Linked DNA regions of Homo sapiens. The protein of the gene in region 1 purifies or fractionates together with the protein of each later gene. This does not show direct contact. Each region holds a gene or a part of one and is shown in the gene's direction. Other genes may lie near its edges.

Region 1 (3,667 bases):
CTGAGCATAACATCCTCCAGGTTCACCTACATTGTAGTGTGTGTCAGTATCATTCCTTTTTATGGCTAGATACTATTCCATTGTATGGATAGACCACACTTTGTTTATCTACTTGCTTGGATAAACACATGTGTTATTTCCACTTTTTAGCTATTATGAATAGTGCCGCTGTGAACATCTGCAAAGAAGTTTTTTGGTGGACTTCAGTTTTCACTTCTCTTGGGTTACACTTAGGAGCAGAACTGCTGGGTCATGTGGTAACTTTATGTTGAATCTTTCAAGGAACGTTTCAAGGAACCTCAGACTGTTTTCCACAATGACTGTGTTTTACATTCCTTCCAGTGGGGTGTAAGGGTCATGGTTTCTTGTTTCTTCACGTATCTTGTAATTTTTTTATTGAAAGCTGAACATTTCAAATAATTTAATGCGATAACTTTGGAAACCAGATTCTCCCTCTGCCCCAGGATTCTGTTGTTACAGCTGCTTATTTGGTGACTTTTCGGAACTGACTTTGTAGACTCTTATTCTTTGATGTATGTGGCCACTGAAGTCTTTACTTGGTTAGCTTAGTGGTCAGCTAAGAACTGCATGGAGATTTCCCTAAACTAAGAACTCTCCCGGTCTTTGCTGAGGGCTCTGTGTGCGTTTGGAGGGGATGCCTTCCACACTCAACAGGCAGCAGACAGCTCTGCCCTAGCCTTCACTTCCTGCTTCTGCAGAGATCAAGGTCAGCTGGAGGTGAGGGTTCAGGGCCTCGTTGGTCCTTCCTGATGTGTGCACAGTGCTGTGCATGCGCCTGGCCTAGGTTCCCAGGAATATGCTGGAACCTTTCAAAGCTCCAGCAGACATCTCATACTTTGGCTTTTCCTTTGAAGCTTTTTGGGCAGTCTGTTGTTGGCTCTAACTGTTACCTATCCCCTCAGGCAGCTGTGAGAAGAAAACCTCAGACAAATGCCCCCAGAGAAAGGCTTTTAGCCCTGGCTGAGCTCCGGTGAAGTTGGATGAAGATGACCCTATAGTTGCTGACTCTGACTCTTCTTTGTGGGGGGGCTTTGAAAGACCCCAGCTGAGTTCTGCTCTCTCTGACACATCACTGTTCAGGGCTGCCGCTGAGGTGGGAGTGGGACCAGAGTGAGTTAAAACACCCTGGAGTTCCCATTCTCACTCAGCTTCAGCTGTTTTTCCTGACTTTAAATGTTCCCTGTGTTGCTGCAAGCCTGTGGTTAATTTCCATAATTCTGAATCTCCCAGTTCTTGCCAGTTTTATCGCTGTTTTTAACAGAGAGGTGAATAACTCCTGGCCCAGTCTTGTGGGTTGTGGGGGCAGAGTTGAGGAAGGGGCCCCGGGGTGAGGGGTTGGGGGGCAGCTGCAGCAGGGAAAGCAAATGGGCTGGGGGTGAGCAGAGAGGTTTGGCTGAGACCAGTCCCCACGGGTCTCCCAGGGAACCGTGTGCCGCCTGCTCCAAGCCTCTAAGTAGGCTGCAGCCAAGCTCTTGAAGACCACGGCTCTCTCGGCCTGGAGGCCACACCACCTCTGACTTAGACCCAGGGGCAGTCCGGTGGAGGCAGAGCAAGGGGAGGTTCTGCCACTTCTTGGATGTGACCCCAGCCTCCACTTCGTCCTGTGCTTACTGTGGAAACAGGGAAAGGAGCGGCCCCGAGGAGCACAAGCACCCCCAGTCCTTAGAGGCCGTGGGACTTGTCTGGCCGCCAGGCAGCCACAGCAGCCTCTAGAGGGGGCAGGTTGCTTATGCACAGAGGTGGGGCTCAGGGCTGCGTGACTTTGTAGGATGACACTGTGCAGTTGTTCAAGGCAGCTGCTGCAGACAGGGTCCCAGTGATCCCCTCTCCTGGCAGCTGGGCTCATGGTGGTTCTGCTTAAAGAAGGCCACAGCCAGCTTCCAGCAGCCCAGCGGTCATTGGGTTTCTCTGAGGCCCCAGGCAGAGCTGCACGTGCATCCGCACCAGGGAGCACTGCACAGGGGCCCTGGCCTGGCCCGGCCCTGCTCTGCACCTCACGGGCAGCTGCTGACGGCTCTTTGGGCTCACAGGGGATCCAGCAGGCGCTCCTGGTCCTTAGGAGGCAGGCAGCTCAGGGCTGCTTCGCTCTCCCTGCCACGCCCTCCCAGGGTGTCTGCCAAGGCTTGCTTGCGTTTTAGTCCCTTTGATTGCCAGACCTTTCGGTTTTCCTTGAGTAAACCTGAGAAATTCCTGACTTTATTTTTTTTTGCCAGTTGGAAGCATAAACTGTTTGAGATCCGCTTCCTCCACCAGCACATCTTGTTCTCATGGCCGCTAAGGGGACGTTCACCCTGGGCCTCCCACCTGCTTGGCCGCCCCTCTTCAGGTGACCTGTATGATTTCTGGGCTCAGAGCCCACCCGGGCCAGCCCTCGAGAGTGTGAAGTCCGTCCTGGCTTCAGCCAGGTGCCCTCAGAGCTGCCCCTCAGTCCCTGCCCACCTCAGCCTGTGGCACTTACCCCCTGTGCCTCCTCTCCTCTGGCTGGCCTTGTAGGCCACCCCTGCCGCGCAGACACACCTGAGCTCTGCTGGCCCTGATTTGCTGACCTGTTCTCTCCCCACTTCCTCTCTCTGAGTTTGGATCCCCCAGAACCCAGGTGTTGCTCCCTGGGGCTGCATGCCCCTGTCTGTTTGATGTGTCTGTCCAGAACCCGGGCAGACTTGAGGGGTCCCAGCTGTCTGCCTGTATGGCCCCTGCAGTTGCTGTACCCACCTCAGGCCCTGTATCCTGCTCTGAACCAGGGTCAAGGGGAGGGTCCTGGGGAACAGAGGGGAAAGGTACCCTGCGAGGGCACCGGGACCTGGAGTGCAGCAGCTTAGATGCAGACAGGCCACCTGCAGCCCCAAAGAGGCCACAGCCTGCAGACAAGGACTGGCAGCAGGGAAGCCCTGTGCATGTGTGCCCTGGGAAAGCTCTGCTTGATTCTGCAAAGCTGGCATCCTCTTTAAGGAAGCCCTAGGACAGGCCAAATGGAGCTCTTGTCCAAGGGGTCATTTCTGTCTTGACAGATCGAAGGTGCCTTGGAATATGGAATCACAAGTGATGACATCTTCTGGCTGAAGGAATCCCCTGGAAAAACGTAAGGCCTGCGCGTGCTTGGTGGGGTCCTCTTTTTGTTCACCAGAGTGAGCACTGGACCCTTAGAGCCTGTGCTGGTGCTGGGCTCCTGGGGCTTTCTTTCCGGTTTACCCAAAAGAAGGAAAAAAGGCCTGTTATTTGTGGCCAGGTGTGGTGGCTCATGCTTGTTAGCCTAGCACTTTGGGAGACTGAGCGGGAGGATTGCTTGAGGCCAGGAGTTCGAGATCAGCATCAGCCTGGGCAATATAGTGAGACCTCTACTCTACAAAAATCTGTTTTGGTTTTTTTTTTGGCTTTTTTTTTTAGGTGAATTCTCACTCTGTCCCCCAAACTGAATTGCAATGGCCCAATCTTGGCTCACTGCAATCCCTGCCTCCCAGGTTCAAGTGATTCTCCTGCTTCAGCCTCCAAAGTAGCTGAAATTACAGGCGCCCACCACCACATCTGGCTAATTTTTGTATTTTTAGTAGAAATGGGGTTTCACCATCTTGGTCAGGCTGGTCTTGAACTCCTGACCTCAGGTGATCCGCCCACCTCGTCCTCCTAAAGTGCTGGGATTACAAGCGTG
Region 2 (3,667 bases), on another chromosome or scaffold:
CTTATCACAATAGAAGTGCTCAGTAGTGTTTTTTGAAATGAAATAAAATGTATCATTTCCCTGGGAGGTTCTGGAAAGGAAGGACTGTTTCCATCGTTCCATATATTATCTAGCCCAACATGCACATTTCCTGAATACTAATATATCAGCTTTTCCTAAGTTCAGTTTATCTTATCGCTCCTCTCTGCTCAAAGCCATGGAAGACATCTGGGTCCTGCACAGTATTTTGTCTTTTATTTTTATTTGCAGAGCTTACTGGATTTTTTTGTTTGTTTTTTAGGTCTTTGACTTTGAACTGAGCAGCCAGGATATGACCACCTTACTCAGCTACAACAGGAACTGGAGGGTCTGTGCCTTGTTGAGGTGAGTGAGCCCCAGTGTGAGGAGCAGTTCCCAGGAGATATTCAGATGCTGCACAGCAAGAGAGTGATCCCTGCAGGCCTCAGCGCCAATGTGCTCTCGTCACAGCTGTTCTTGCTTTGCACATTACCTTGCTTTCTCAGCCACGTGACTTGCATCAGCTGAACTGCATGGAGCCAAGATGCCAAGAGATCCGCTCTTGATATCTTCTTCCAGCCCTGGGGCATTGTTGGCCTGGCCTGAAGTAACTACATATTTTGGCTTTCCATTCAATTTTTAAATCCTAGCAGTTCATCTGAAACTAGGTGATCCCAGGTGACCCTGGATCAAACTCTGGAAGAATTTGCCTGTGACTTTTTGTCTTAATGACCCTAATGAAAGGGGTTTGGTCGGGAGCCCCTGGGGCTGAGGTTTGAGACAGTCCCGGCTCTGACCTGGTAAGCCACATGGCTCCAAAACAGGCCCTCCCTCTGAGCAGCAGGCACCTCAGTTCCTCCAGCCACACATCCTCTGGTTCTGTTTCCTCTGCATGGTAGTTTGGAAGGAGCTGCCTAGGAAGGTTTTCTGTGGGGTTTTCTCTTTTCCTACCATTACAATAACTAGGTGACGCATGTAACTCACTTTCTGCTTTCAAGAAGGAACTTCTCATTTTGCAGTGGAGACTGAGACTCTGTTTCTCTCTCACTACCCTTATTCTTGTCTGAGCTCTGTGTTTCCACACTCTCTCCTTTAGTACTTCCTCTTCTAAGCAAAATGTGAACATTCCCTAAGATGGGGTGGGCTACCAGCTTTCCCTTTCCAGCGTCTGTCCCATCTCCCTCCCCGGAGTTTGCACTGCTGGTGGCTTCAGCCACCGCCCCAGGCAGATGTTTGCCCAGTCTGCGTCCTGGACAATAACTCTGGCCCTGCTTCAGGCATATGCGTGCCTGGCAAGCCTGCTGCTGCCACACTGTGGCCTCACACTCAAAATAGGCCGCAAACAGAGCATGTCACAGGCAGCCCCAGGCCAGTGCCCTTTCAGACATCTCTGTTAATGCTACTTAGCCCTAGACATTAAAATCATTTTTGGATCTAGTGGACAAGGAGGAGAGGAGTGAATCAGTCACCAAGCTACATTCGTTCTCCTTTCAGAATCTCTCCCATTCATCCGTCTTCCTTTTCCCCTCCCACTTGAGACAGAGTGGATTGAAGCTTTCAGGGCTGAGGAAACACAGTGGTTTTCTCATTGCTCCCTTTACAGTTAGGCTCCTCTGCCCTCCAGTATTGTGCTAGAAACTTCTGTTCGATTATCCTGTTGCGTGGCGGTGAGTGGGAGGAAGAGGCTAGCCCTGACATGCTCAGGTCTCCTAGGGAGTTTTCGCTAACTACACACACACCACCCCTCTGGCAGATAATGCTTTACTGAGCCTGACCTGCTGATGTCAGTGTCACTGTGGGTATACAAAAAAGGCAGACCATGGAGAACTTTTGAATAAGAGTTACAGACTGTAAGCACCCAGCTCAGATTACATAACTCTGGCCTTGCGTGAGCTGCCCAGCTATCTGTCCAGTGTTCCTGCCTTTATGTTCCTAGCACAGCCATTGGCCCTACTAGATGGACAGTGAGTGAGCCTTGACAAACACGTCTGCACCTGTGCTCCCTGCCATGTGCTCCCTGCCCTGTGCTCCCTGCCCTGTTTCCAATATAAAATCGCCGACCGTTGATTGGGCTCACTTCAGCCCCCACTGATACAAGGAGGCTCCCTCTGTCCTCAGAGCACTTGCCGTTGCTTCTCTTATCCTTTGAGATTCAGTCACATACAGACTTTTAACATCCCTTTTTTTTTTTGAAATGGGCTCCTACTCTGTCACCCAGGCTGGAATGTAATGGCATGATCACAGCTCACTGCAGCCTTGACCTCCTGGGCTCAAATGATCCTCCCACCTCAGCCTCCCAAGTAGCTGGGGCCATGGGCATGCACCACCATGCCTGGTTAATTTAAAAAGTTTTTTTATTAAGATGGAAATCTTGCTATGTTGCCCAGGCTAGTCGCAAACCCCTAGCCTCAAGTGATCCTCTCGCTTCAGCCTGGGATTACAGGCGTGAGCCACTGTGTCTGGCCTGCCTTCTCATATTATTACACAAGATGTTTAAGACCACAAAATACTGTCTGGTCCTGCCAGCTAGACTGAGTTACTGGAAGGCAGAAATCGTGTTGCCGTCCTGCACGGCCCAGGCACAGTGCTGGGCACATGGGGAGGGTGGTGTCCCTCACACATGTGCTGCTTGATGACAGTAGTGGTAGAGGGGTCTGGAGGGTGAGTTGCTTCCCCCAGCTGCAGAACCATCATCTGCACACTCAGAACTAGCTTGTTGCCTCTGAGGTTCTATTTTATTTCTTCAGTGAGACACATCATTTCTCTGTTGGGAGTTGGGTATAGTCAAAATCACCTCTTCAAAAAGCAACTGTTTTCTCCTTTCTCCTGACAGCTGTACCTCCCACAAGGATTACCCCTTCCATGAAGAGTTTTGAAGCTGTGGTTGCCTGCTCGTCCCCAAGTGACCTATACCTGTGTTTCTTGCCTCATTTTTTTCCTTGCAAATGTAGTATGGCCTGTGTCACTCAGCAGTGGGACAGCAACCTGTAGAGTGGCCAGCGAGGGCGTGTCTAGCTTGATGTTGGATCTCAAGAGCCCTGTCAGTAGAGTAGAAGTCTCTTCCAGTTTGCTTTGCCCTTCTTTCTACCCTGCTGGGGAAAGTACAACCTGAATACCCTTTTCTGACCAAAGAGAAGCAAAATCTACCAGGTCAAAATAGTGCCACTAACGGTTGAGTTTTGACTGCTTGGAACTGGAATCCTTTCAGCAAGACTTCTCTTTGCCTCAAATAAAAAGTGCTTTTGTGAGCTTGGTTTTGTGAGCTTTGGTTTTTTAAAACAATAGCAACCTTCTATCTCACTTCAACCATCACTCTCCACATACCCATAAGGCAGGCCAGTCAGTGATGCAAAAGGAGTGAGGACTTGACTTTTCTACAAGTCCTCAACTGCAAGTTGGGGGCCCCTCACCCCAGTACTTTACCCATTTAGCTTTAGGGTTGTGGGTCTCATCCTGGCTGCACACCAGGTCACCTTTGGGGGCTTTAAGGCTGGTGATGTCTGGACCTCGCCCTGGAGGCTGATCTGATTGGGCTGTGATCAGGACAGCAGGAGTGTACAGGCTCTCCAGGTGATTCCAGGGTGCAGCCAAGGCTGAGCCACAGCTTTAGGGTAAACCCATGTTCGATTCCACAGATTCCTTGGTTGCTCCTTCTACGTATGAAGGCCGA

What was found. The genes of interacting proteins can lie anywhere in the genome.
Region 2: the proteins of TXNRD2 (region 1) and AKR1B1 fractionate together in Homo sapiens (co-fractionation; one large-scale study listed by BioGRID). This does not show direct contact.

The regions. Positions count from the first base shown.
Region 1 is NC_000022.11:19,910,810-19,914,476, reverse strand, and holds part of TXNRD2 (thioredoxin reductase 2, mitochondrial isoform 5 precursor), read left to right. Parts: intron 1-3,029; coding exon 3,030-3,100; intron 3,101-3,667. UniProt on the Homo sapiens protein: Involved in the control of reactive oxygen species levels and the regulation of mitochondrial redox homeostasis. Maintains thioredoxin in a reduced state. May play a role in redox-regulated cell signaling.
Region 2 is NC_000007.14:134,441,934-134,445,600, reverse strand, and holds the end of AKR1B1 (aldo-keto reductase family 1 member B1), read left to right. Parts: intron 1-280; coding exon 281-363; intron 364-2,830; coding exon 2,831-2,873; 3' UTR 2,874-3,245; downstream 3,246-3,667. UniProt on the Homo sapiens protein: Catalyzes the NADPH-dependent reduction of a wide variety of carbonyl-containing compounds to their corresponding alcohols.